6 separate regions of the Homo sapiens genome follow, and regions 1, 2, 4, 5 and 6 are each reported to be linked to region 3. Evidence: microRNA targets listed by miRTarBase, many of them from high-throughput screens and not tested one by one. Region 3 holds a microRNA gene; each other region holds the end of a gene's coding sequence.
The links. Region 3 holds the annotated microRNA hsa-miR-7110-5p (UGGGGGUGUGGGGAGAGAGAG, at 1,120-1,140, opposite strand). A microRNA usually pairs through its seed, bases 2 to 8, with sites in the 3' UTR of a target mRNA and lowers its output. Matches are read on the target gene's strand: a 7mer-m8 pairs with bases 2 to 8, a 7mer-A1 pairs with bases 2 to 7 and ends in A, and an 8mer does both.

Region 1: the mRNA of HACD4 is a reported target of hsa-miR-7110-5p. Seed matches in the 3' UTR shown: 7mer-A1 at 3,111-3,117 and 7mer-A1 at 1,908-1,914.
Region 2: the mRNA of POLR2E is a reported target of hsa-miR-7110-5p. Seed matches in the 3' UTR shown: 7mer-A1 at 2,630-2,636.
Region 4: the mRNA of POMGNT1 is a reported target of hsa-miR-7110-5p. Seed matches in the 3' UTR shown: 7mer-A1 at 3,523-3,529.
Region 5: miRTarBase lists SH3BP1 as a target of hsa-miR-7110-5p. Seed matches in the 3' UTR shown: 7mer-m8 at 564-570.
Region 6: miRTarBase lists NAB2 as a target of hsa-miR-7110-5p. Seed matches in the 3' UTR shown: 7mer-A1 at 794-800.

Annotation. Positions count from the first base shown.
Region 1 is chr9:21,003,788-21,007,885 of GRCh38, forward strand. HACD4 (3-hydroxyacyl-CoA dehydratase 4) reads right to left here. Exons shown (of 7, transcript NM_001010915.5): 7 at 1-3,332. The coding sequence ends at 3,250. Among named protein-coding and RNA genes, the nearest start is that of HACD4, 26 kb to the right of the region's middle.
Region 2 is chr19:1,086,062-1,090,160 of GRCh38, forward strand. It overlaps POLR2E (RNA polymerase II, I and III subunit E), which reads right to left. Exons shown (of 8, transcript NM_002695.5): 5 at 4,026-4,084; 6 at 3,823-3,901; 7 at 3,411-3,490; 8 at 513-2,659. The coding sequence ends at 3,425. It overlaps ARHGAP45 (Rho GTPase activating protein 45), which reads left to right. Exons shown (of 23, transcript NM_012292.5): 23 at 1-567. Among named protein-coding and RNA genes, the nearest start is that of POLR2E, 7.3 kb to the right of the region's middle. RefSeq lists enhancers at 1-328, 2,895-2,994.
Region 3 is chr3:123,158,840-123,162,938 of GRCh38, reverse strand. It overlaps MIR7110 (microRNA 7110), which reads right to left and starts at 1,145; the gene lies at 1,060-1,145. It overlaps PDIA5 (protein disulfide isomerase family A member 5), which reads right to left. Exons shown (of 17, transcript NM_006810.4): 16 at 1,484-1,618; 17 at 835-1,059. The coding sequence ends at 979.
Region 4 is chr1:46,185,704-46,189,712 of GRCh38, forward strand. POMGNT1 (protein O-linked mannose N-acetylglucosaminyltransferase 1 (beta 1,2-)) reads right to left here. Exons shown (of 22, transcript NM_017739.4): 21 at 3,755-3,864; 22 at 2,980-3,654. The coding sequence ends at 3,567. It overlaps TSPAN1 (tetraspanin 1), which reads left to right. Exons shown (of 9, transcript NM_005727.4): 9 at 1-259. Among named protein-coding and RNA genes, the nearest start is that of POMGNT1, 11 kb to the right of the region's middle.
Region 5 is chr22:37,655,152-37,659,250 of GRCh38, forward strand. SH3BP1 (SH3 domain binding protein 1) reads left to right here. Exons shown (of 18, transcript NM_018957.6): 18 at 121-966. The coding sequence ends at 533. It overlaps PDXP (pyridoxal phosphatase), which reads left to right and starts at 3,572. Exons shown (of 2, transcript NM_020315.5): 1 at 3,572-4,099. The coding sequence starts at 3,632. PDXP-DT (PDXP divergent transcript) reads right to left here and starts at 3,226. Exons shown (of 6, transcript NR_109952.1): 1 at 3,104-3,226. RefSeq lists enhancers at 3,129-3,198, 3,209-3,258, 3,447-3,948 and silencers at 3,449-3,758, 3,959-4,068.
Region 6 is chr12:57,093,981-57,098,079 of GRCh38, forward strand. It overlaps NAB2 (NGFI-A binding protein 2), which reads left to right. Exons shown (of 7, transcript NM_005967.4): 7 at 632-1,496. The coding sequence ends at 741. It overlaps STAT6 (signal transducer and activator of transcription 6), which reads right to left. Exons shown (of 22, transcript NM_003153.5): 20 at 3,088-3,153; 21 at 2,870-2,998; 22 at 1,428-2,781. The coding sequence ends at 2,592. Among named protein-coding and RNA genes, the nearest start is that of NAB2, 6.9 kb to the left of the region's middle. RefSeq lists enhancers at 1-219, 1-260, 752-1,282, 1,827-2,663, 2,341-2,460 and a silencer at 256-325.

The sequences.
Region 1 (4,098 bases), not on the chromosome of region 3:
GAAAGCATTTTTCAAAACTATGTAAGGACATATGACTTACATTACAGTAATTAGCAACAATTCAGTAATAATCCAAAACATGAATTTTCCTTTTTAAAAAGTACTTAGTATATTTTTATACCTTTTATCTTCCTGTATGTGTGTGTCATTATTTTTAAAATTAAAAAGAATACAGAATGGGGCATCATTTGTGTATTTGCTAAAGGTTTACTATTTTCATTAGGGTCTTCTCTTTTGAGATAGAGTCTCACTCTGTCACCCAGGCTGGAGTGCAGTGGCTCAATCTCTGCTCACTGCAACCTCCATCTCCTGGGCTCAAGCGATTCTCATGCCCCCAGCCTCCCGTGTAGCTGGGATTACAGGCATGCGCCACCATGCCTGGCTAATTTTTGTATTTTTAGTAGAAATGGGGTTTCACCATGTTGGCCAGGCTGGTCTTGAACTCCTGACCTCAACTGATCTGCCCACCTCAGCCTCTCATAGTGCTAGGATTACAGGTATGAGCCAGCATGCCTGGCCAGGGTCTTCTTTTAAGGCATCAAAGCCCAAATAACTTACAAGATGTTAACAAATACATGACATTAATGAATACTCTATCAGAGCACTAGGGACTGAATGCTGGTGTCCCCCATTAAATTCACATGTTGAAAATCTAATCTCCAGTGTGATGGCATTTGAAGCTGGAACCTTCATAAATGGGATTAGTACCTTTACAATAAGAAATAAGGGAGAGATGGTTTCTCCCTCCACCATGTGAACATATAGCAAGAAGGCATTCATCTGCAAACCATGAAGAAGAATCAGCTAGCACCTTGGAACCTCATCAGGAACTTAATTGTCTAGCACCTTTATCTTGGACTTCCCTGCCTCCAGAACTGTGAGAAATATATTTGTTGTCTAAGCCACCCAGTTTATGGTATTTTGTTATAGCAGCCAAGCTAAGACAGCAATTAGTACCAAGAAGTGTGGTGATGCTATAACCAATATATAAAGATGTGGAAGCAGCTTTGACGTTAGGTAACAGATAGAAGCTGGAAGAGTTTTGAGGTACTAGAGTACCTGGAAGAGTACTGGAAGAGTTTTGAGGTACTAGTTTTTTTGCTAGAAAAAGCCAGTATTGCCATGAAGGGATTGATAGAGGTGATTTTGGTGAGGGCTCAAAGAGAAGAGGGTGGGAGAGAAAGCCTCCATCTTCATAGAGAACACGTAAATCACCATGAAGATAATGTTGGTAGACATGGACAATAAAGGCCATTCTGATGAAGTCTCAAATGAAAATGAGGAACCTGTTATGGGAAACTGGAAGAAAGGTGATCTTTGTTATAATATGCCAAAGAACTTGGATGATTGTGTTCATGTTCTAGTGTTTTGTGGAAAGTAAAATTGTGAGCCATGAAATTAGATATTGAACTGAAGAGATCTCCAACCAGTGTTGAAGGAGTGCCTCGGTTTATCTTGACTGCTTAAAGTAAAATGTGACAAAAAATGAAGACAGAATTCTTAACAAAAACGGAACCAGAACTTAAAAGATGTGGGAAATTATCAGTCTGTCTGCATTACAAAAAGATAAGAAAACACGTTTGGTAGAGAACACTAAGAGTGTAGCAGACAAGTCATCCAATTAGATTTATGTGGGTGTGAACCACAGACCTAATCAGCCACCCCAGCAGGAACACTGCTAGTTTGTATTGAAAGGAATGGAGATGGGACAGAATGAGGGAAGACTGTTGGACTTCTTGAATTTGGGACCATAGAGCTATTCAGCTGTGAATGTACACTATTCTTCAAGAAAAGGAGAAACTGACCCGGAACAATGATTCAGAGAACATCAGTGGTACCTTCTCAGTTTCAAAAGGGGCAGTCATTGCCTTGGTTTCAACAGGCCTGACAGCTTCCGCCTGGTGATATGGGGGTCATCCTCCTCCAACATAGTCCTGGGGGCAATACCTCTGCCTCACTGGGTCCTGAAGCCAGAGTATCAGGCCAAAGAGGATTATTACTAAGACTGAAGATCTCATGGTGTTTGCCTTGCTAGGTTTTGGACTTGCTGGGGACCCATTACACCTTCCTTTTTTCCTGTTTCTTGCTTTGGGAATAGGAATGTCCACCCTTTGTGTGTCCCACCATTGTACTGTGGAAGCACATAACTTGTTTCATTTCACAAGTTCAAAGCTGGAAAGGAATTTTACCTCAGGATGAATTCTACCTTGAATCTCACCCACATCTGATTTAGACGAGACTTTGGACTTTAGAGTTGATGCAGGAATGAGTTAAGACTTTTGAGGCTGTCGAGATGGAATGTATGTATTTTGCATGTGAGGAGGACATGAATTTTGTAGGACCAGGTACAGAATGCTATGGAGTGAATCTTTGTGTTCCCCCAAAATTCATGTGTTAAGCCCTAACCTCCAATATGATGGTATTTGGAGGTGGGGCCATTGGGAGGTAATTAGATCATGAGGGTAGAGCCCTCATGAATGGGGTTAGTGCCATTATAAGAGACATAAGAGAGTTGATCTCTCTCTCATGTGAGGACAAAGAAGGACATCTATCTGCAAACTGGGAAGAGGGCCCTCACCAGAAACTGCATTAGCTGATGCCTTGATCCTGAGCGGAATTCCCAGCCTCCAGAACTGTGAGAAGCGTTTGCTGTTGTTTAAGCCATTCGGTTTATGGTGTTCTATTATAGCAACCTGAGCTAAGACATAGGGCTTGGAAAGATATTTAATTTTCTAAACATATCTAATGTTTAGGGTGAGTATTATTAGATCTGAAGACAGACATCTGTCTATGAAATATGTTATTCTAGGCAACTGTGGAATATATTTTCCATCCCTCTTCTCCTACAGATCTATTTGGGAACTTGGAAGTGAAAAAGAATACATGTAATTTAGGTTATCAAGTTTGGTTTCTTAATTTAATTGAATCTATTGCAGCTAATCTCCTATTTCTCATTAAACTTACAGGAAAATAATCAGACTTCATACAATGTAAGTATAACTTGTATAAAATCCAAATGAAGCAGGAATTTTGGTGAAGCAGGGTATGGAGAATATATATGTCTTAAAAATACAATGTGTGAAAAACATAGCCTGTTATGTCTAGAGTTTTGGGGGTATGTGCAGTTATTTCATGTAATGGATTTTTATCAAATACAAGGTATTTTTCCACCAGAATACTTCCTGTGTTTTATTTACTGCACTGAATCCACAGCCTGTCTTTTCTCGTGTCACACTGGAATGCTGTACTTCACATCTTCTTTTTTTTAATGGGAAAGATTCCGAGGATGTCTCTTCTTTCTGAGTATAGATGACTGTAGGTAAAATACATACCTAATATGGAGAAAGAAGTTGCAAAAGTAAGTAAGGTTAACTATTTCTCTGGAAGAAACAATGCTTTTAAAATACAGTCAGAGTGCTGCCCAAATCCAGGGAGAAGACACTTGCAAGGGAGATGTGAGAAGGAATGTTTAAAGAAGTGTCCAGATTTTATGCAGAAAGAGAGGTAAATCAAACTCTTCCATCCTACTTTTTTTAATGCAAGGAATTGTCTTCCTTTCTTTAGCATAGCTCTCTCCACCTTCCTCTAAAGTTTCACATTTTTGTCTTTTCTCTCTATATGTTGTTCATATGTTTGATATCTGTTACCTTCTAGAGATAATCATTATTTTGGAGATTTGTGAAGGTTAGAGCTGGGAAAACAAAAATTTAATAGTGAAAGTTTTTTCCCCAATTTCCTGGAAAATGATTAGGTTTAATGATCAAATTTATTCAAGGGTAAGTTTTTGTTCCATACATTTCTCTTGAGTCTGTAACACCGACTCCCATTTGCCTGATAGGAAGTGCCAGCTTGAAAAGCCAAACAAACAAGAAACAAAATGGATATAAATGGAAACATCAGAAATAGCCAATTCTTCTTAGTTTGACATCTAGGTTTTATTTGTAGATACCTGTGCACATGGTCAAAACTTCTATATCTCATACATAATGCAGCTATATTTTCTGATAGTAAAATTGTTCTTATTTGTACAGTGAAAGTGAAATATATGATCCCATGATGCCCTGCAAAAAGCATTATAACCTCCAGGGGCTTTACTAG
Region 2 (4,099 bases), not on the chromosome of region 3:
CAGCACGTCCCCTGCACCACGGCATAGCTTAGGTGCGCCGTCCTGGGGTCGCTGCCGAGAGCGCCTGGACTTCGACGTCCCACCAGCGGGCGCCTCCTCCCAGAGGCTTCCAGGAGCACGAGGGCCTTGCGGCACAGGACTGTGCCCTGTGCTGTCCCCTGCACCCCGGCTCAGCTGAGCTGGGGAACACTGCTGTCGTGTGAAGTCACAGTGGCCTTGTTGGTGCCCACAGGGCTGTGTGGATGGAGGAAGCTGTCCCTGCCCAGTGCATCCCCCAGGTCATCACGGGGACGCAGGAGGCAGGCCCTGCCCTGCCCTCTCCTCACAGGTCTGTTGCAGGGACTCCAGAAACCATTCTGGGAGCCGTGGATGGGGGCGGAGCTGGGGTTTGGTGCAGTTTCCAGGGTGCAGTACAGCAGGGCCTGAATACTGGCCCTGGACTCCCTTTTCCAGAACACCAGGTGTGGCCACCTGGGGCTCAGGTACACAGTGGGGTCTCTCGGAAGCCACCGTGTGGTTCTTTCACAGGCACGTTTATTTTGCTGAAATAAAAAGTTTTTAATCGGGTGTTTTCTGTGGCAGCTGCAAGCTTAGAAGATTTTCTGTGGCAGCTGCAAGCTTAGAAGAAGGGGCCAGGGAGGGGACAGAGAGAGCCCCGTGGCGTGGCCCTGGGCCTCCCCCTAGGGGAGGGATGTGTGAGGAAGGGAACCCCCCGCCACGGGGCCCCGCGAGGTGGGAGCCCGGGTGGTCTTCACCACAGGCTGTGCAGACGGTCAGGCATCGAATGACCTCGTCACGTCCACCTGCAGCCCAGGGCAGTCCAGGAAAACGTTCTCGATGACGGACGTATCCCCCGGCTCTAAGGTTTCGCACGTCAGCCCCACATGGCCACCAAGCACTGGAAACGTGGCCCATGCGCCTGTGGAACTGCATTTTTTTTTTTTTTTGAGACAGGGTGTGACCCTGTGGCCCAGGCTGGAGTACAGGAGCACAATCGTAGCTCACTGCAGCCTCGGCCTCCTGGGCTCAAATGATCCTCCCGCCTCAGCCTCCCAAAGTGTTGGGATTACAGGTGTGAGCCACTGTGCCCAGGTAATCTTAAAGTTTTTTGTAGAGGTGGGGGGTTTCTCTGTGTTGCCCGGGCTGGTCTTTTAACTCCTGAGCTCAAGCGATCCTCCACTTCCTGGGTTCAAGTGATTCTCCTGCCTTAGCTCCCAAGTAGCTGGGATTACAGGCATGCACCACCACGCCCAGGTAATTTTTGTATTTTTTGCAGTGATGGGATTTTGCCATGTTGGTCAGGCTGGTCTCGAACTCCCGACCTCAGGTGATCCGCCCACCTCGGCCTCCCAAAGTGCTGGGATTACAGGCGTGAGCCACCGCGCCCGGCCACCTCCAGAATTTTCTCATCTTCCCAAACTAAAACTGTGCACATGACACACTCTGTCCCCTCCCTCCTCCCCAGCCCTGGGAACCCCCATCCCCACCCAACTCCCCAGTCCCGGGAACCCCCATCCTACTTCCAGTCTCTGACGACTCTAGTGACCTCCTAGGAGTGACATCAGTGTTTGTCCCTTTGGGTCTGGCTTGCTTTGGCCAAGACAATTTTGAAAAAAGTACATTTGGAGAGAAGGGGAAGCACTGTCCCCATCACACACACAGTCCGCGGCCTGGGGATCTGGGGACCCTGCTGCACAGAACAGTGGGCGCGTTACAGACCACCGACCGCCCGAGGGTGAATTACATCTTAATAAAGCTACTGTGAGAGAACCACGTGGCTAGGTTAAACTTGGGCAGGCGAGGCCTTCTGAAATCAGACAGTAAGCAAACGGGGAAGTAGAGCCAGATCCCAAACGTCTGTAAGAGGAACTGGCCGCAAACCACAGCTGCACAAGCCAGAGAACAACTCCACACCCTCACGGGAAGGGAAGAGACAGACACGCTCACGCCTTACCCAGGAGCACGAAGTGGGAGGGCAGGGCGAGGGCCTGGGGAGACACTGACCCCTGAAGCCAGCGCGAGGAGGGCACACCTGCCAGGCTGACCTCGTGTGCTTGGGGTGAGGCAAGGCCACCTGCTGGAAACCTTGTTAGTCGGCCTGGTTTCTGTATCAAGCAAATTTATTTGCTCAAAACATCTTTACCATTTGAAAACACCCAACCTCCTACAACAACCGAGAACTCCAGAGCTGGCATCTCGCACCCTGGTGGCTTGAGCGCGTGCATGGCTGTGAATGGAGTAAAGAGCCGAGGCCGGGCGGGGGCCGCCACGCATCAGGGCCCCCGAGGGAGGGAAGACGAGGGGTGGAAGGCCGAGGGCCCAGGAGGAAGCAGTGGCTGGTGGGAGACCCGGACCCCAAACCCCCAACAGAGGGGACCCAGCGTGGTCTGGGTGAAGACCCGGCACCAGCTGCCCCCAGGTGACCTCCCTCTGGGGGCCTTGTTCCTTCTGAGGCTGCATCTCGCACAAATCCACAGGTGAATGGGGCGGGCTGGGCCACAGGAAGCCTCACCCCAGGACGGGAGAACGTGGGTGGAGGCCACCTGCCTTGGGGAGTCCAGAGGAGCAGCAGCCGTGAGAGCTGTGGGGGCCGGATTCTGGCAGGGCAGGGGCGTTTGTCCTGCAGGGATGGGGGTCGCTGTGTGTCCGCCTCTAGGGGCTAGGAAAGGGGGAGAGTGGTCACACGACAGGGGCAGATCCAGTATGCCCAGGACAGCACAACGCCCACCGAACGTGACGGGGTGCGGGAGGCCTGGCAGGAGGCGGCCCAGGCCGCAGTGCAGAGGCCGGACGGCTCCCTTGTGCCCAGCGGTCACACAGGCGTGGGCAGTAGCTCTGACCTCAAAGGAACCGTGCCAGCGTCAGACCAGGCCAAGCCCCACCCCTGGGCTGAGTGTGAAGTGGGGCGGCCTGCAGGACAGCAGCTCGCCATGACCAGAGTCCAGGGGAAGCTGGGAGGCTCTCGCCATGGGCAGAGGCTGTCCCGCTCCTGAGACTCCGGCCAGTCCCTCCCAAGGTGCCCACTCAGGGAAGGGTTGGCCTGAAGCTGTGCCTCCTCTCTCAGCTCTGGGGTCTCTGGGCAGGTTTCTAAACCCTCTTCTGGAAAGTCCCGCCGCACAACTGCCCTGCAGGTGAACGTCTCCTGCTTCTAAGGTGGGTCAGCGGCGGAGAGACGCACGCCCCGCGTACCAGGACTCTCCCGTCCAGGCGCACAGCCCCAAGAGCTGCAGCCTACGGTCGGGTGGGGTCTGGGGGTCTGGGGGTGTCCTGGGAGCGCCTGGTGGCCCAGCTGGGCTGGTGCTAGGAGGGTCTTGCTGCCGGACAAAGCAAGAACAGCCCTGCACACCGACGGAGGGGACGACACCCCTGCCTCTGACCCCACCTCAGTGCCTGTCCCTCGGCCGTCTCACCTGTCAGGCGGTAGCTACTGCACCAGCCGGTAGGTGATGTACCTGCCAGCCGTCTCACTGGGCCGGATGATCTTCACCACCTGCAGAGACAGAGAGCAGGGGCTGCGAATGCTTGAGGGGTCTCACTGCAGTCACCAGACAGCAGGCGGGCAGCACACGGGCTGGGGATGGCCGGCAGGGGTCCGAGATGGCTGACCCTGGGCTGTGGGACCCGCTCCCTGGGAACCTGGGTCACGCTCTTCTCTGGGCCCAGTGGCCCTGGCTTTAAGAGGGGGATATTGGGGGTGTGGTCTCGAGGTCCCCTCCAGGCCCTGGATCAAGGGGGAGGGGCTGTCGGGGAGGGACAGAAGCCCCCTTCTCCGAGTGGTCAGCTCAGAGCAGCCCCAGGGCCCCTTCTCCCCACAGGGCTCACCTGCCCACGCTTTATCCCAAAGTAGCGCGCCACAGGGTCCCCCGCCTGGATCCTGGGCAGCTGGTTCTCTCGGAGCTTACTGCGAAGCACCGTCAGGAAAATGCCAGACAGGGCCGTTGGGGGGGCAGGGGTGTGTGTGGGGGGGGAACGCGGAAGTCTCGAGGGACAGGGAGGGGCGGGGCCGGTGGGGCTGGAAAGGATACTATCGGGCCAGCAGCTCTGTCACCTCCTCCTTGGTCATGACGACGTGCTCAGGGACTAGCTGCCGAGAGAGGAA
Region 3 (4,099 bases):
GCAGATCTAATATCTGCACCTCGAGAACACACCATCCCTTCCAGCCAGGGTGCACAGCAAGCAGCTGGCACAGAGCCCCCCTTCCCCCACTCCATTCATGCCCCTGAAGCGGCAACTTAATTTTCTTTAAAGGGAGATTGGGGAGGGAATGGAGAGACGAAGAGAAGACAAATAGCTGGAGAAAGATAAATACCTAAGTAAGTTCCAGGAAAACACACACAGAGGAAACACACCAATGCTGAAACCGCAATGATCCAGAAGAAGCTAGTGTTTGGTTACCATTTGCTTCAGCATCCCAATTTCCCTGATCATCTTTTGTTTTTTTCTTTCTTTTTCTTTTTCTATTTTTGAGACAGGTCTTGCTTTCTAGCTAGGCTGGAGTAGTCATGCGATCATAGATCATTGCAGCCTTGAACTCCTGGGCTCAAGAAATCTTCCCTTCCCAGCCTTACAAGTAGCTGGGACTATAGGCATGTACCCCTATGCCCAGCAACTTTATTTTCTGTAGACATGAGGTCTCATAATGTTTCCCAGGCTGGTCTTGAACACCTGGCTTCAAGTGATCCTCCCACCTCAGCCTCCCAAAGTCATTGATCATCTTGACGTATTTCCTCTCATTAGCTTGTCATTTTCCAGCAGGATATTCTGCGGTCCAGTTTCCCTGTTCTGCTCTCAAATGACTGACAGGGGGCCGACACCCTCAGGAGTCACCTCCATGCAGATGGGGCACTGGAGCACTGCTCTGTACCTCCCAGCAGAGGTGGTGGAATGAGGAGGATGTGAGTATCCACCTTTTTTAGTACAGGCTCCACGAAAATAAACCATACCACCAAATAAATGGTTTAATTTTATTTCAAAATTGTACAAAATGGCCATAAGCGGCTATAAAAAATTTGTCTTCAGAACATGTGGAAATTCAGAAACAACAAAACAGGTATCATTCACAGTGTAATGGAAAAGCTTTTTCTGAGGCAGGAATTATAACTCTTCCTTCTTTTTCCCTAGTCTTTCATGGTCTCCCTCCCGGAGGGCTCGAATATAATTGGTAAATCCCAATTCCTGCAGGGAAGTGGGAGAGAGAGAGAGAGAAAGAGCTTTAATCCCTGAGCTGGCTGTGCACTCTCTCTCCCCACACCCCCAGCCCCTCCAGGGGGTCACTCCTATGACAGGGAGAGGTGGGCAGACTTCTGCAAGGTGGAGAGGGTCTGCGTGGCTTGCACCAGCCCCGACCAGCAAGTGAGAAAACCCTCGGCATCTGGAGTCCAGCCTGCCTCTGGGGACAGGACATCTGTGGCAACCCCTTGGGACTCTCCTCCAACAATGTCAAGCCTCAGCCAGGCCCAGGGCCTGGGCCTCTCGGTGCAGTGTTCCAGCTGACTTCTGCAGTTTCTGGGATGCTGCCCAGTGCTGCCCCTCCTCAGTGGAAGTTTCCCTGCCCATCAGCAGAGAGAGAGCTCTGGGCAGACGCCTCTCCCCCACTTACTGTGCGGTCGCTGTCATACTTTTCTGCGAACTTCCCATAGTGGTAGTAGTGGAAAGTGGGGTAGCCCTTGACCGCCTCCTGCTGGCACAGGTCTTGGTTCTTGTCTTTGACACAGTCAACAGCGGCACAGGCAATCTAGGAGCCAAGGTAAAGAGAGTTGGCACAGGGTGTCCCCAGGCTGAGGCCTGGACCCCACAACACAGATTGCACATCTAGTCCACGTCACAGGCCCACTCTGATTTTTCTCCTCAGTGGCAGGTAGGAACTGAACCAAAGCACCCCCAGCTCAGGACTCCTTGGAGACTGATGGTGCTTGTTTTCAATTTCCAGATGGGTAAGGTTAGGGGACTCGGCCTGGAGTGCCTTTAGACTGTCCTTTAAAATCAAGAGTATGATGATCGTAAAGGAAATGATGACTTGAAAGCATTTGTAAACACCACAGGTTCTGTGGTGCTATCTGTAAGGGACTGTAGGATTTAATCATTTCTCCACTAATATTTCCGGAACATTAGCTTGGGGGGACAGTATAGTGCCAAGGTTAAGGGCAAGAGCTTTCAAGTCAAGTTCCCCAAGTGCACTCTTGGTTTGCCTGGACAGTAAGACTTAAGGAAAATAACTCAGCCTCTTGGTGCCTCATTTTTTTCAGCTGTAAAATGGGGATAATAATAGTATCTAGGCTATCAGGATATTGTGAAGACTGAATAAGAGAATTCCAGTGAGGCCAGTGAGCACAGAACCTGGCACCAGATTCATGGTCAGGAAATGTCAGCTGCTATTACAGTCACTTCTTCCAACCCCATATACAAGCTCTGTCCCCACTTAGGGGCTCAGTGTCTGGGCAGGGGTTGGATAAAGGGACAATTCCAACATGATGTGATGTGAGGGATGAGGGAGGTGGTCCAGGTGCCAGGTGAGTGGGGCAAAGGCGCTCTGTATGATTCGCCATCTGAGCCAAGACTGGAAGAGGAGGAGACCAGGGAAGCACATCTGGAAACTGGAGGAGCCCCGCATGAGTAAAGCCATCAGAATGTTTGGTCAGAAAGTGGTTCCCACATTGGCCACTGGCCTCTTCTTGACCATCTAGCAAATTCCACATGCTGGGTAGCTTTTCCTCATCATTTGTTGTTTTTTCAAAGGAAGACAGTATAAAGCAGAAATGGGGAACTTGTTTCCGGTTGAGGGTCATGCACCAGGGAAGCCCGAGAAGGGGTCCTCAATGGCCATACCCAGTACAGAGGTGTTATGGAAGATGGGGCAGATTCCCATGAGAATGAGTCCTCCTACCAGGCAACACACACTGAAACCCTGCCGTGTGCCAAGCCTGTTCTAGATGCTGGGGGACAACGTCGACCTTGACAAAGTCCAGTTATCAAGCGTCTGCTGTATGACAAATTAGATCATTTTAGATAGAGCTCAATGAATGCTTGGAAGAAATTAAAAGAGGGTGATTCAATAAGATAATTTAAAATTATTGAATAACCATGATTCACACAGTTCTTTGGTTGATGGTTATTTGCATTTGGACAAAGCCCCTTTCCAGGTAGGAGAATCCTGTGGGCCCCCATGGCCACGTTTACTCATCATGTCCCTCATGCCCAGGTGAGCTGCCAGATGGATAGCTGAAGAGAAGAGTGAGGTGCGGCCTCCCCTGGCCACCAGGTGCCACCTTCACCCCCCTCACCCTCACGCTTCCCTTCTACTCTTCAGCTATGTAACATTCTATACGGTGAGACTTTTAAAATGGAGTTTACAAACTTGCTGCCTGCAATCTGTATCTGGCTCTCAGTCCTCTTCTATTTGGCCCACATTGAATTTAACAACAACAAAAAAAATAAATCTGAATTAGCTCCAACATAGAAATGGAGCCAGAAGATTTAATACAACAATTTGGCTTTCCAGCTTCTCTTTAAAAGTCAGAAGACTTGATGGCACTTACCCTGCAGTCTCACAGGTGACAACTGGCTGGGCAGAGAGGCAGCTGTCCTTCAGGTAGGCTAAACATACCTTCCCCAGCACCCCCTGGAGCCCAGTTCACCCAGGCCAGCAGACTGGCCCCTATGCACTTCTGATAACCGCAGCCCACCTCTAACGCACTTTATTATTTAAAAACATGAGGCAGATGCTCCCCTGGCCAAATTGTGGGGTTCCATTTCTCAGGGCAGGTGCTATGGGGCCCTGCCCAGGGACACGGGCATCCACATACTTTCCTTCCCTGCAGCCAGAGGCTGAGGCCCCATGCCCAGCCCGGGCCAGGAGCTGCTGCTCCGCCATGAAAGTGCTGGATGAACATGGCTCTGGGCTGCTGCTCTCCCTGCATCTGCTTTAAATTATGAATTTAATTTGTATACAATGCCCTGGAGCTATTGGAAATATAGTGTATGGTTTTATAAATCTACTAAATTAGAAATGTATACTTGTTCTGAATCACCTAAACTAGCTGCCAGCCGCACACATGGAATGCAACTTCTAGCTGCAAAGGTGAATCCACGCGCGTTTTCCACAGAAGAAGAGACAAATGCGTCCTCCCCAAAGGCAGCAGCTTAGACTCTTTGGAAAGAAGGCAGCGAATAAAGCTCTTCTCAGCTATTGAAATTTCACCTAAATGCCTGTCCCCTT
Region 4 (4,009 bases), not on the chromosome of region 3:
GCGATGCCTGACTTTCCTTCCATTGGTGGGTGGATGGGTGGGGGGCATTCCAGAGCCTCTAAGGTAGCCAGTTCTGTTGCCCATTCCCCCAGTCTATTAAACCCTTGATATGCCCCCTAGGCCTAGTGGTGATCCCAGTGCTCTACTGGGGGATGAGAGAAAGGCATTTTATAGCCTGGGCATAAGTGAAATCAGCAGAGCCTCTGGGTGGATGTGTAGAAGGCACTTCAAAATGCATAAACCTGTTACAATGTTGCCAGTTGGACTCTTCATGTATCCTTGGGGAGAGGGGCCTAAACTGGCCACGGATTCCTGTGGGGCTGCCAACTCAGAAGGCCCTGGAAAGGAGGGAAGTAGGGTGGGGTTGGGGGTCAGAAGTGGTTATTTCTCCCCTTCATTTGGGTTCCAGGCCTTGGAGGGAAACTAAGAGGGATGGCTGAGAGGGCATGAAGAAGTACAGTTGGGTTAGGCCAGTCTGCCTCCTTATAAAGGGGAGAACTTTGGACTGAAACTACCCCCTCCTGGGTAGGGGCACTGGACTGGAAAGCTATGAAAATAACAAGCTTGTGACGAATTCTTACCAGGGCAATGGGAAAGGGTCACTCCTTAGGTTCTGGGAAGCCCTTCAGGAGCCCCCTTCCTAGGGTCCAGGCTGCCTGCCTTTCCCACTCAGGCAAAACCCCAGATCTGTCCCTGCTTCTGGGATCTCAGCAAGCACTTCATTTTTTCGTTGCTGCTGGCCTACCTGGTGTTCTTCAGACCTCACCTCTTTTTCTTTTCTTTTCTTTTTTTTTTTTTTTTTTTGGGACAGAGTTTCGCTCTTGTTGCCCAGGCTGGAGTGCAATGGTGTGATCTCGGCTCACTGCGGACTCTGCCTCCGGGTTCAAGCAGTTCTCCTGCCTCAGCCTCCTGAGTAGCTGGGATTACAGGCACCTGCCACCATGCCCGGCTAATTTTTGTGTTTTTTTTTTTTTTTTTTTGAGAGAGTCTCGCTGTCGCCCAGGCTGGAGTGCAGTGGCGCGATCTCGGCTCACTGCAGGCTCCGCCCCCTGGGGTTCACGCCATTCTCCTGCCTCAGCCTCCCGAGTAGCTGGCACTACAGGCGCCCGCCACCTCGCCCGGGTAATTTTTTGAATTTTTAGTAGAGACGGGGTTTCACTGTGTTAGCCAGGATGGTCTTGATCTCCTGACCTCGTGATCCACTCACCTCGGCCTCCCAAAGTGCTGGGATTACAGGCATGAGCCACCGTGCCCGGCCACGCCCGGCTAACTTTTTATATTTTTAGTAGAGACAGGGTTTCACCATGTTGGCCAGGCTGGTCTCGAACTCCTGACCTCAGGTGATCCACATGCCTCAGCCTCCCAAAGAGCTGGGATTACAGGCGTGAGCCACCTCACCTGACCTAGACCTCATCTCTTCTTTAGCCCTAACTATCCCTATGCTCCAGGTAGGAAACTAGGGATCGGAAAGGCCAAGATACTTGCCCCAGTCCCACAGGCTTCTGTGAAGAGCTCAGCCTAGATTTGGGCCCAGAACTCCAGCACCTGGTGTAGTCCTGGCTGACATGGTACTAGTTCCACTTGAAGGGGCAGCTGGCCAGAATGTCTGATATAGACCTGATCACTGTTGAGCCAGGAGTGAGAGGCCTGAGGGAGGCTATGGCAAGAGGGTACAGTGTCTGCTACCAAGCAAAGCCCAGCCTAACAAACCAGTCCCCCTCCTTACTTCCCTTTGACCCCTGTAACTCTCTTCCTGAGCTTTTCCAGGGCAGCCCAGAACCACCACCCCCTTGCTGAGCCCAGAAAGGAAGAGGGACCTGGCCAGAACCAAACAGTGCCTTAGAGCTGGTCTGTGAGGGCCAGACCAGGAGCCTGCTAGGGTGCGGGACAGGGGGAGGAGCTAGCCTGCCTCACCCCTTCACCACCATACTGTGCCTCTCACACTTCTCCTCTGCCGTGTGCCTGTGTGGAGGCTGCATGGGATTTGTTTGCCCAGGGCGGGCCTCTACCTCATCATGGGCTAATTGCTGCTCAACCTGGCTGTTGTGCCACCTCAGGCACTATATCCAGCTCCAACAAACACTGAAGGCGTCAGGGTGGCGAGATATGTCCAAGCGACATACCACCCATGCTGTCACCGAGTTGGGCTCCAAGCACCTGTGAAAGAGGCAGGGCAGAGAGCAGGCAGGAGGGCTGGAGTTCCAGCTGGAGTTCTGTACTTGTACAGAGGCAGGCAGACCCTTTCTGAAGAGGTGCTCCACACTCATCCTCCTGACATTAGGCCCTTCACAGATCCCTTAAATGTTCTTTTCCCTGCCGTAGGCTTTCTCATTCACTCCCTCTGGACAATCCCATCCATTTTCTGGTGCCCCTATGACTAACTTAGATCTTCCTAACCTCTTTGGGTTACTGGCTATGTGAGAATCTGATGAAGACCATGACCCATTTCTCCACAAAAATGCCCAGATAGAGAATTCTGAATAGCAAAGTGCTCTAAGGGCCATAGACACCCTTGCTCCTACATCTCCATCTGCACCCTAGCCCGTCTCTTGAATGATGCCTGCCCAGTCCTGTCCCATCCACTTCCTTCCCACCCCTACTATGCACACCTGCTCTCTCATTTCCTCTTCCAACTCCCCAGTATCCCTTTTTGTTCTCTCCTGCTCTGTCTCTGGGGACAGGTGCCCGGCCCAGGCAAGATAAGCAGGAACCCGGCTGGTGGTTAAACGGTGGGGAAGAGGTAGGGTGGCTGCTCCAAGCCTCAAGTAGGGCGGGGCTAAAGTCAAGCTGTCCTAGGGTAGAGTTGGGGAAAAACCTTGGAGTTTGAGACTCAGGCATCCCCTGGTGGCCAAATGGCCCCAAATGGAAGATAAACTCTGTGGAGGACAGTAAGGAAAACTCACCATCCAACACAAGTATTCTCTCCACCACTTCCCTCCAGCACCCCCCTGACACACAAAATCACAATCACAAGACATCCCCAGAGGGCTTCTCCTTTTTTAATCAATGACCAACTTATCCAGCTTTGGAAATCTGGACAAAGAGAAGGCTGAGAGGAGGCCTGGTCCAGTGTCTAAGGGTCTCTGAGTGAGTCTGTGTCAGCATGTGGGCCCCAGCTGGGCCTGTCCATGGGTTGGGCACAGCAGTTTCCTGAGTAAGAGCCAGCCCCACCCTCAGGGCAGCATTCCAGCCCAAAAAGAAATCCAGGCCCTCCAGGTTCGGCCTGTTTTCAAGGCCCTCAGGACAGTCAATAAATAGGTTAGATTCTGAGCCAGGCCTGGAAAGTGAGGGTATTCAAAGGGCAGGATGAGCTGCTAGGGATCGTAATGATTCCCAGGTACTCTCCTGCCCTTCTCCAACAAGGAAGTAAATAAATAGACTTTTAACTCAGGAACGGGGTGTTGGAGCAGGGGAACCCTCCCCTTGGAGTTAGTAATTAAGTCTCATGTTAAAAACAAGGTAGCCCCAGCCCCTACCAGCATCTACAAAATCCTACAGGATGGAGGGAAGGGCTAGCCAGCCTGGGGGTACACAGTACCCAGCCCCGCAGGGTCCTGGAGGAGGTCTCATGTCTGTTCTGGGGCTCCTGGGGCTCCCTCCTCCTTTGGGGGTGGCTCCAGGAAAATTGGGGTGACTGAGGGTGGCTTCTTCACTCTGGGAAAATAATACAAGAATGTATAGAGAAGAAGCCATTAGCTATATCCCTGGATCTCACTAGGCCTCCTGTTTCCCAGGGCAGAAAAGGGTCACTCACGAGTAGGGGGAAGCCGGGACCCCCACCATCAGGAAGTGGTTCTTCTTCCGAAACAATCTCCACAGGCCCCGATGGTTGCCACGCACATCCAGGTCCCAGATATGGAGGCACTAGTGAGGGTGGGATGGAGACAGAGACATGGGTCAGAGAGCTGTAGGGAGGGGTCACTGACGACCCTTTGGCCCAGCCCCCACCCCTCCTCAGAAACCACCTCAATTTGTAAGAGATAGCATCTTTTAGAATATGAATTTGGAC
Region 5 (4,099 bases), not on the chromosome of region 3:
AACGGTGTTCCCGGCAGAGGGAACAGCAGATGCAAAGGTTGTGAGGGGGCACGGAGCTTGGTGGATTCACCACAGGCCACGTGGACACTCAGCCTCCCTCACCCTTTCCTTCCTCAACAGCCAAGCGCCCGGCGCCAGCCCGGCCCACCATGCCGCCCCCCCAGGTCTCCGGCTCCCGCTCCTCCCCTCCAGCCCCGCCCTTGCCCCCTGGCTCTGGCAGCCCTGGGACCCCCCAAGCCCTGCCCCGACGTCTGGTTGGCAGCAGCCTCCGAGCCCCCACAGTGCCACCCCCGTTACCCCCCACACCCCCTCAGCCTGCCCGGCGCCAAAGCCGGCGTTCACCAGCCTCCCCCAGCCCGGCCTCCCCAGGTCCAGCCTCCCCCAGCCCAGTCTCTTTGAGTAACCCTGCACAGGTGGACCTGGGGGCTGCCACAGCAGAGGGAGGAGCCCCTGAGGCTATCAGTGGGGTCCCCACTCCCCCAGCTATCCCCCCTCAGCCCCGCCCCAGGAGCCTTGCCTCAGAGACCAACTGAGTGGCTGGTTTCTCCCTAAGCAGCCCTCAGCACCCCCTCCCTCCCCACCTGGCCCTCCCAGGACAGCTCTCGCCCCCCACAAAGGGGCATGGGCCTCCAGCCTTTGCCCACAAGTGCCTCAGTGCCCACTGGGTCGGCCCCCATGGCCAGGAGGGCTCAGGACAATCCTCTATTTCCTGACCTTTTCCTCGTCCACCCTGGGCTTGGGGACCCCCCCACCGGACTCTCCACTCTCCGGCAGGTCCTAGGGGAGCCACCGGAAGGAAGGAGAGGTTTGCCTGCTCCTACGGGACTGATTCTTCTCTTGCCGACATGTTTTTTGTAAGGCTGGTAAATAAATTATTTTGGACAAAACTGGAGCAGCTGCCCAAATGATAGTTTTATTTTCTGTCCTTGAAATAAAGAAGCCAATTTTATAAAGGGGAAAACAATACATATTCTTTGCCTCCTTTCTTCCTGTCTGAAGTGAGATCACAGCAGACATTTTTAGAGCTTTCTCTGCACTACATGCTGTGCTGTTCTGTGGATGATTTCCACTTAATCTTCTCCTACTGCAGGAAATACCATTACCTCTTAGCAGTGAGGAGACTGAGGCCCAGACAGAAGTGACCTGCCAAGGTCACACGGCAGTCAGGCAGGGGCCTGGGATTAGAGCCTAGGTCTGACTCCAAAGCCTGGCTTGTCCCTCACATTCTGGGCAATTTACTTAACTTCTTGGTATCCCTTTTCCTCATTTGTGAAACTTTATAACAATTCCCTCCACAGAGGTATTGCTCTCCATTGAAAACCAAAGCACCACCCTTGGCCCACAGAAGCCCCTACCGCTCCCACTGTTTCCTGGACCCCTCACTCTCCTTCCGGGAGGAGGCTGGGAAGCCTCCCCAAGGAGCAGGGATGGATCTGTCCTCAAACCTTCCCTAAATCTGCTCTGTGCCAGGCCCTGAGCTAGCTCCAAGACTTAACCCTACACCCAAAGAGTTCCCAAACAGACAGGCAGAAGCAACCATTAGAATCAAGTGTCTGGCCAGGCACGGTGTCTCATGCCTATAATCCCAGCACTGGGAGCCTGAGGCAGGAGGATCACTTGAGCCCAGGAGTTCTAGACCAGCCTGGACAACATAGTGAGACCCTGTCTCTACAAAAAAAAAAATTTTAATTAACTGGGTGTAGTGGCGTGTGCCTGTAGTCTCAGCAACTAGGAAGGCTGAGGCAGGAGGATCGCTTGAGCCCAGGAGTTGGAGGCTTCAGTGAGCAGTGATCATGCCACTGCACTCCAGCCTGGGTGACGGTGTAAGACCCTGTCTCAAAAACAAAAAAAATCAAGTGTCATTGCACTGGGAGCCCATATTAGCCAAGTTAGGGGTGGCCATATAACCTAGACTCATGGTATGGGGTGGGTGGTTAAGAACGGCTTCCTGGAGAAGGTGATATTTAAGGGAAGTCTTTCAGGAGCTGACCTGAAGGTGAATTTTGTTTATTTTTATTTATTTTATTTATTTTTTATTTTTTGTTTATTTTTTTTTGAGATGGAGTCTCGCTCTGTTGCCCAGGCTGGAGTGCATTGGCACGATCTCAGGTCGCTGCAAGCTCCGCCTCCTGGGTTCAAGCAATTCTCCTGCCTCAGCCTCCCGAGTAGCTGGGACTACAGGCACCCGCCACCACGCCTAGCTAATTTTTTTCTTTTTTTTTTTTTTTTTTTTTGTATTTTTAGTAGAGACGGGGTTTCACCGTAGCCAGGATGGTCTCGATCTCCTGACCTCGTGATCCGCCCACCTCAGCCTCCCAAAGTGCTGGGATTACAGGCGTGAGCCACCGAGCCCGGCCCTGAAGGTGAAATTTTTAAAGGAAAAAGGAACATTCAGGCCAAGGAGACTATCTATGCAAAGGCCAGGAGCAAAAGGCTTAGGGCACTTGGGGAATAGGAGCTAGTTGAGCTTCCAAGGTTGGGTACAAGGTACAGTTTTTCCCAAGTCGTTGGAGCTCCAGTTGCTCCTGGGGGTCACAGCCTTATCTGAAGTTGGCAGACAACTTCAAAACTGTGACACCACAGCTCACAATTCATTCATCCCCACACTGCAGACCAGTGGCTCCTCAAAGGTCCCAAGACCTGTGGTTGCTTCCAGATCACAAGGCCTCCTCCCTAAGACAGGGACCCAGCCAACCTGGGTCACCCCATTACTATTCTGGGCAATTGGCCACGACCATTCTGGATCCTGCCCTCCCGGGGCGTGCTGCAGTGACAGCCTACCAGCCTCTAGCCCAGTGCTTCCCTACCCTATCCTAGCTCACGGTAGAATCCCTGGAATTAAACCAACTAACCAACAAACCAAAAAATGCCCAGTCTTCACCCAAAACACTTACATGAGGATCTGTCCTGCTACACATCGGTGATTTCAAAAGCATTTGTCAAGACATTGAACTGTACATTTAAGATCTATGCATTTTACTATATGTAAATGATATCTGAAAATAAGTTCCCAGGGGACTCTAACGCAGTGTGAAGAACTACTGGTCTAGACCGAGGGCTCCAGCACCCAAGAAGACACCATGTGCCTCGTACCCCATCGTACACACACGTTTCTTGGGACTTCGCTCTGAACTGGAGCGTCCACGATTCAGGGGGCAATGAGATTCGACCCAAAGGCAGTTCATTTAACATCTGTTTTTCTCCCAGCAACCAGCTCGCCTAAGCTTCTGATTGGCTGGAGGGCACGGGGCCTTTCGCTTCGCGTTTTGTTTGTAGATTCTTATTGGTTAAGAAGAGCGTCAGTCTCCCACCGCGTAAGAGTGTAGTCGGCGTTGAAACTCGGCGGCGACTGGTCCAGCAGAACCAGGGACGGGGAGAAGGATCAAGCTAGCTCTTCATTGGTCCCTTCCCCTCGGTGTTGGCCACGAATCCGCCCCTCTCTCCAAGTTCCGTTAGCTCGCGGCTTCGCTCCTCTCCCAGACTCTCGCCCCCATTGGCTGCAGGCCACGCCGTCGCCCCGCCCCCCGGTCCTTCCAGCGCGCCAATTGGCGGCTGCGTGGAACGTGCCAGGGAGAGCGCGCCGTGCCCGCGGAGAGAGCGCGGCGCGGGAGGCCGGCGGCCGGCCGGCTGCATGGCGCGCTGCGAGAGGCTGCGCGGAGCGGCCCTGCGCGACGTGCTGGGCCGGGCGCAGGGGGTCCTGTTCGACTGTGACGGGGTGCTGTGGAACGGCGAGCGCGCCGTGCCGGGCGCCCCGGAGCTGCTGGAGCGGCTGGCGCGGGCCGGCAAGGCGGCTCTGTTTGTGAGCAACAACAGCCGGCGCGCGCGGCCCGAGCTGGCCCTGCGCTTCGCGCGCCTCGGCTTCGGGGGGCTGCGCGCCGAGCAGCTCTTCAGCTCCGCGCTGTGCGCCGCGCGCCTGCTGCGCCAGCGCCTGCCCGGGCCTCCGGACGCGCCGGGCGCCGTGTTCGTGCTGGGCGGCGAGGGGCTGCGCGCCGAGCTGCGCGCCGCGGGGCTGCGCCTGGCCGGGGACCCGAGCGCGGGGGACGGCGCGGCCCCGCGCGTGCGCGCCGTGCTTGTGGGCTACGACGAGCACTTCTCCTTC
Region 6 (4,099 bases), not on the chromosome of region 3:
AGCCCAAAGCAGTGATGCTTTGTGTGTGGAAGGGGGAAGAGGGAGTGGGCAGGCGGAGGGCCGGGCAGCCGCTGGGCTGAGAGTGACGCAGCAGACAAAGCCACCAACCCTGGCTTGGTATTTTTAAACTGTGCGTGGGTGGGAAGTGGGGGCGGGGACTGGAAGGGGGGCTCTTCTTGAGGGAGGAGCTCGGAGGCTGGCTTCCTGTTCTCCCTCTGATTTGGCTACCAAAAAACTTGGGGGGCCATGGTAGAGTGGCCTGGGAGGGGCCTGGGAGGGGGCCAGGGATGAGTGGGGGTGGCAGAGCTTGGGAAGGGGGGAGGGGAGAGGTCAGAGCCAAACCACCCCCGCAGCTCCTGACAGAACCAGAAATTCCAGCGCAACCGAGGAGGCGGGAGAGAAAGAGAGAGAGACAGACAGAGACAGAGCTACGCACAGCCAGGGAGGGGAGGGGGCTCACACACATGGGAATGGAACCCCCCATACACATGCAGTGGGCAGGAGGCAGTAATTCAATAAACCTAAACTGAGCCCATCTTCACAGCTTTCTTTGCCCCTGCTTCTGTTCCCAACCACCTCTGTCTGCAGCCAGTCACCCTGCAGTCTCCTAACTGCCCCCTTTTCCCTGCAGAGTTCGAGGAAGGGCTGCTGGACAGATGTCCTGCCCCAGGACCCCATCCCGCGCTGGTGGAGGGTCGCAGGAGCAGCGTGAAAGTGGAGGCTGAGGCCAGCCGGCAGTGAGGGTTGGACTGGTGTCTTCAGACCCAGGACCTCAGACTTCTGGCTCACACAGACCCCCACGCTCTCCATCCCCGGAATCTAGTCACAACCCTGGATCCTTCCTCTGCCCTTCTCCTGCCTCCCCACCTGCTCCATGGGCATAAGACTGTGGGGCTTCAAGCAATAACAAGCAGAGGCCTGGAGAGAGGACACAAGGAGGGTGCGTGGTGCCCTCACCCCTGCCCAGAGCGAGGGGGCAAGGACTCTGCCTCCAGGGCATCTGGGGTTTTCCCCTCCCTCACACAACACACTCCCATTCTCTTTAGGTTTGCACCAGTGGTGTGAGCAGTTGGACTCAGTTTGGACAAGGGGGAAAGGGGGACTTCCCTGGGAAGGTCCAGCTAAAAGTGGCAACATTTGCCCCCAGAATTGGGGGCCTGGGAACACTGGACCTGCTCCTTCTCCCCTCTCCTTCCCCGTTTTTGTGCTTCTGGTTTGTTTCTTTAATTAATTTAACAAGTGCTGCAGTTTGCCCTCCCATTCCCATCTATCCCCCAAGTCCTTTGCAATTTCTTCCCTGCCCTACATAGGGGCGGTGGGTGTGGGATCCCTTCACTGGCCCCCTCGGGAGGCCTGGGTTGGACTCAGGGTCTCCTCCAGCTGGGGGCTGGACCGCAGCACCTATCTGAGCAGTTAGAGCGTCTTTCTTTTCAGATTGTGTACAGTAGATTATTTATTTTGTTATTTTGGAATAAAATTTATTTTATGGCTTAGGATCTATGACCCCTGCCTTGAGAGGGAGAATGGGATAGGGGAGTGAAGGGAAGCTGGCGGTGGATGGGGCAACAGAAAAGATGCAGCAGGCAGGGCCCTCTCATACACTGGAGGGCCACATGGCCAGGCCTGGACCCAGACTCTCACCCTGGCTCCCAGGCAGCATTGGAGGTGTGGAGCCATACGTAGATGTCACAGCCACTTGGACCCACTTGGGCACAGTCAGACTCCAAATTCAGAGTATTTGGGGGTTAGCATATGTCAGAGAGGCCAGCACACTTGCTGCTGTCTTCTGTGCAGTGTCTCACCCTCCCAAATTTGTGTTGTCACGTAGGCAAAAGCAGATAGACACATGTTCTATGTGGTCATGCAACTAAGGTGCCAGCTATACATTTAACATATCCTAGGTACATACACGTTCACACAGCTATACACGAAGAATCTCAGCCCTTGTACTTTTGCATAGTCTCATACACGTATCAGAAGCCTCCACCTGGCTAACAGGAATTTGGGGCTTTGGGAGATTTTTTAATCAGGGCAAAACCTGTACTAGTAACCACATGTCCAGACCCCTCCTATGCTCCCACCCAGGGTCCCTTGAGCTGCTTCCCATTCCCCTAGGGCTGAGACCCAATATCCTCTATCCCTGGCCTCTAGTGTAAATGTGTCTGTATGTTCCTGCCTATCCGTCCTAGGCCCTGGGTCAGAATGGGCGGAGAAGCCTTCCATGCCCTAACCTGTGCTCTTACCCAGCCCCCCTCCTGCTCAGCCCCATCACCCTCAGAGAGCTCTGTATGTGTGTGTGCGTGCGTGTGCGCGCTGCAGGTGCAGGCATGTTGGGGTGTGTCTCAGAGCCTGAACTTCCCTTCCAGTCAGTGCTGGAAGGAGGTGGGCAGGGGAATGATAGAAAGGAAGGAGTGGATTGGCTCCACCCACTGTGCATTCTCCTGTTAGTCTTTTCCTCCTGACCCAGGAGTAGGTGGGGATAGGAGGGCACCCTCCCCATCTGCTGCTTGGCAGGGCATGAGCAAGTGTCCAGAGCAGGTCTGTGGGGGTAGTAGAAGAGCTGTCTCTTTGGGTTCTCCCTCCAGCTGGGATCACCAACTGGGGTTGGCCCTTAGGTCCATGTGGGACATTGAGATCCCAGATTGCCCATAGTGGGAGGGCTGCAGGAGGGGCTGTGCCCCCAAGGACCCTCCCCCCGACTCCCCTTGCCCCTCCAGGAGAAGCTTAGTGAGGTCCTGTTCAGTGGGAGGCAGCAGAGGAGGGAATATGTCTTCACCAATCCTGCAAGGAGATGGGAGAAGCAGTGGAGTAGGCATGGCGCCCACTCCCCTAGATGCCACCCAGCCTCCACTCCCAAGCTGCCACTCACCAAGTGCCCTGAGGAAACGCTGTCACTGGCTGGCTCAGGCAGCTGTCTTCCACCATGGTCACATCTGAGCAGAGCAGGGGGTCAGGGCTGGACACAGCATGCTCCTGAGGCTGGCACGGCAGCAGGCCCCTGCCAGGAACCAGCAATGGAAATAAGGAGAGCGGGGCAAGGCCAGGAAAGAAGAGGCACATGGGGTCAGGAGGGGCTTTGTCACTCACTGGGGGTGAGGCTGGTCAAAGGGCAGGCTCATCTGGCCCAGGCTGGGGGGCATCTGCAGGTGAGGCCTGGAAGTAGGGAGAGCACAGTTAGAGGAAGGCAGGCTAGGCAAATGCAGAGTGGTGCAAAGTCAGGACCACTGAGTGAGGAAACAAGCTCCAGCTCCTTATCCTGACTTAGTCATGGCCTGGGCAAGCTATTTCTATGCTCTGAGCTCAGTCTTCTCATCTGTAAAATGTGCGTGTTATGGGGGTGGATTAGCCAATTTCTAATGTTTCTTTGGACTCTGAACTTTGGTAGTTCTTAAGTCCCCAAGTCCTCACTCCCGCCTCACCTTCTGGGAAGGGAGATGTTGTGTCTTGACTAAGTTAATAAGCACCCGAGTGTCATACTTCGGGAAGAAAAATGTCTAGGCCATTTCAAGGCCAAAACAGATGAGTAAACAAAAACCAATACAGCAGAGAAGTGACAGTGGCTCTCAGGGGCAGGACAGAAAATAATAATAACAGTCATGCACCACATTAACGACATTTCTGTCAACTACAGACCACAGTGGTCCCATAAGATTATAATCAAGGCCAGGCAGAGTGACTCACGCCTGTAATCCTAACGCTTTGGGAGGCCGAGGTGGGAGGATCACTTAAGCCCAGGAGTTTGAGACCAGCTTGGGCAGTAAGTGAGACCTTGTCTGCAGAAAAATCTTAAAAAAGAATTAGCCGAGTGTCGTGGTGCACTACAGCAGGAGGATTGCTCGAGCCCAAGAGGCGGAGGTTGCAGGGAGCTAAGATCGCACCACTGCACTCCAGTGAGTGAGACCCTGTCTCAAAAAAAAAAAATTATAATCAAGCTGAAAATTCCTATCACACAAATATTTACCATTATGTTACTATTTCCTTATACTATTCAGAACAGTATCATGCTGCTCGGGTTTAAAGCTAGGATCAATAGGCTACACAATATAGCCTCAGTGTATAGTAGTCTATACCATCTAGGTTTGTGTAATTATACTCAATG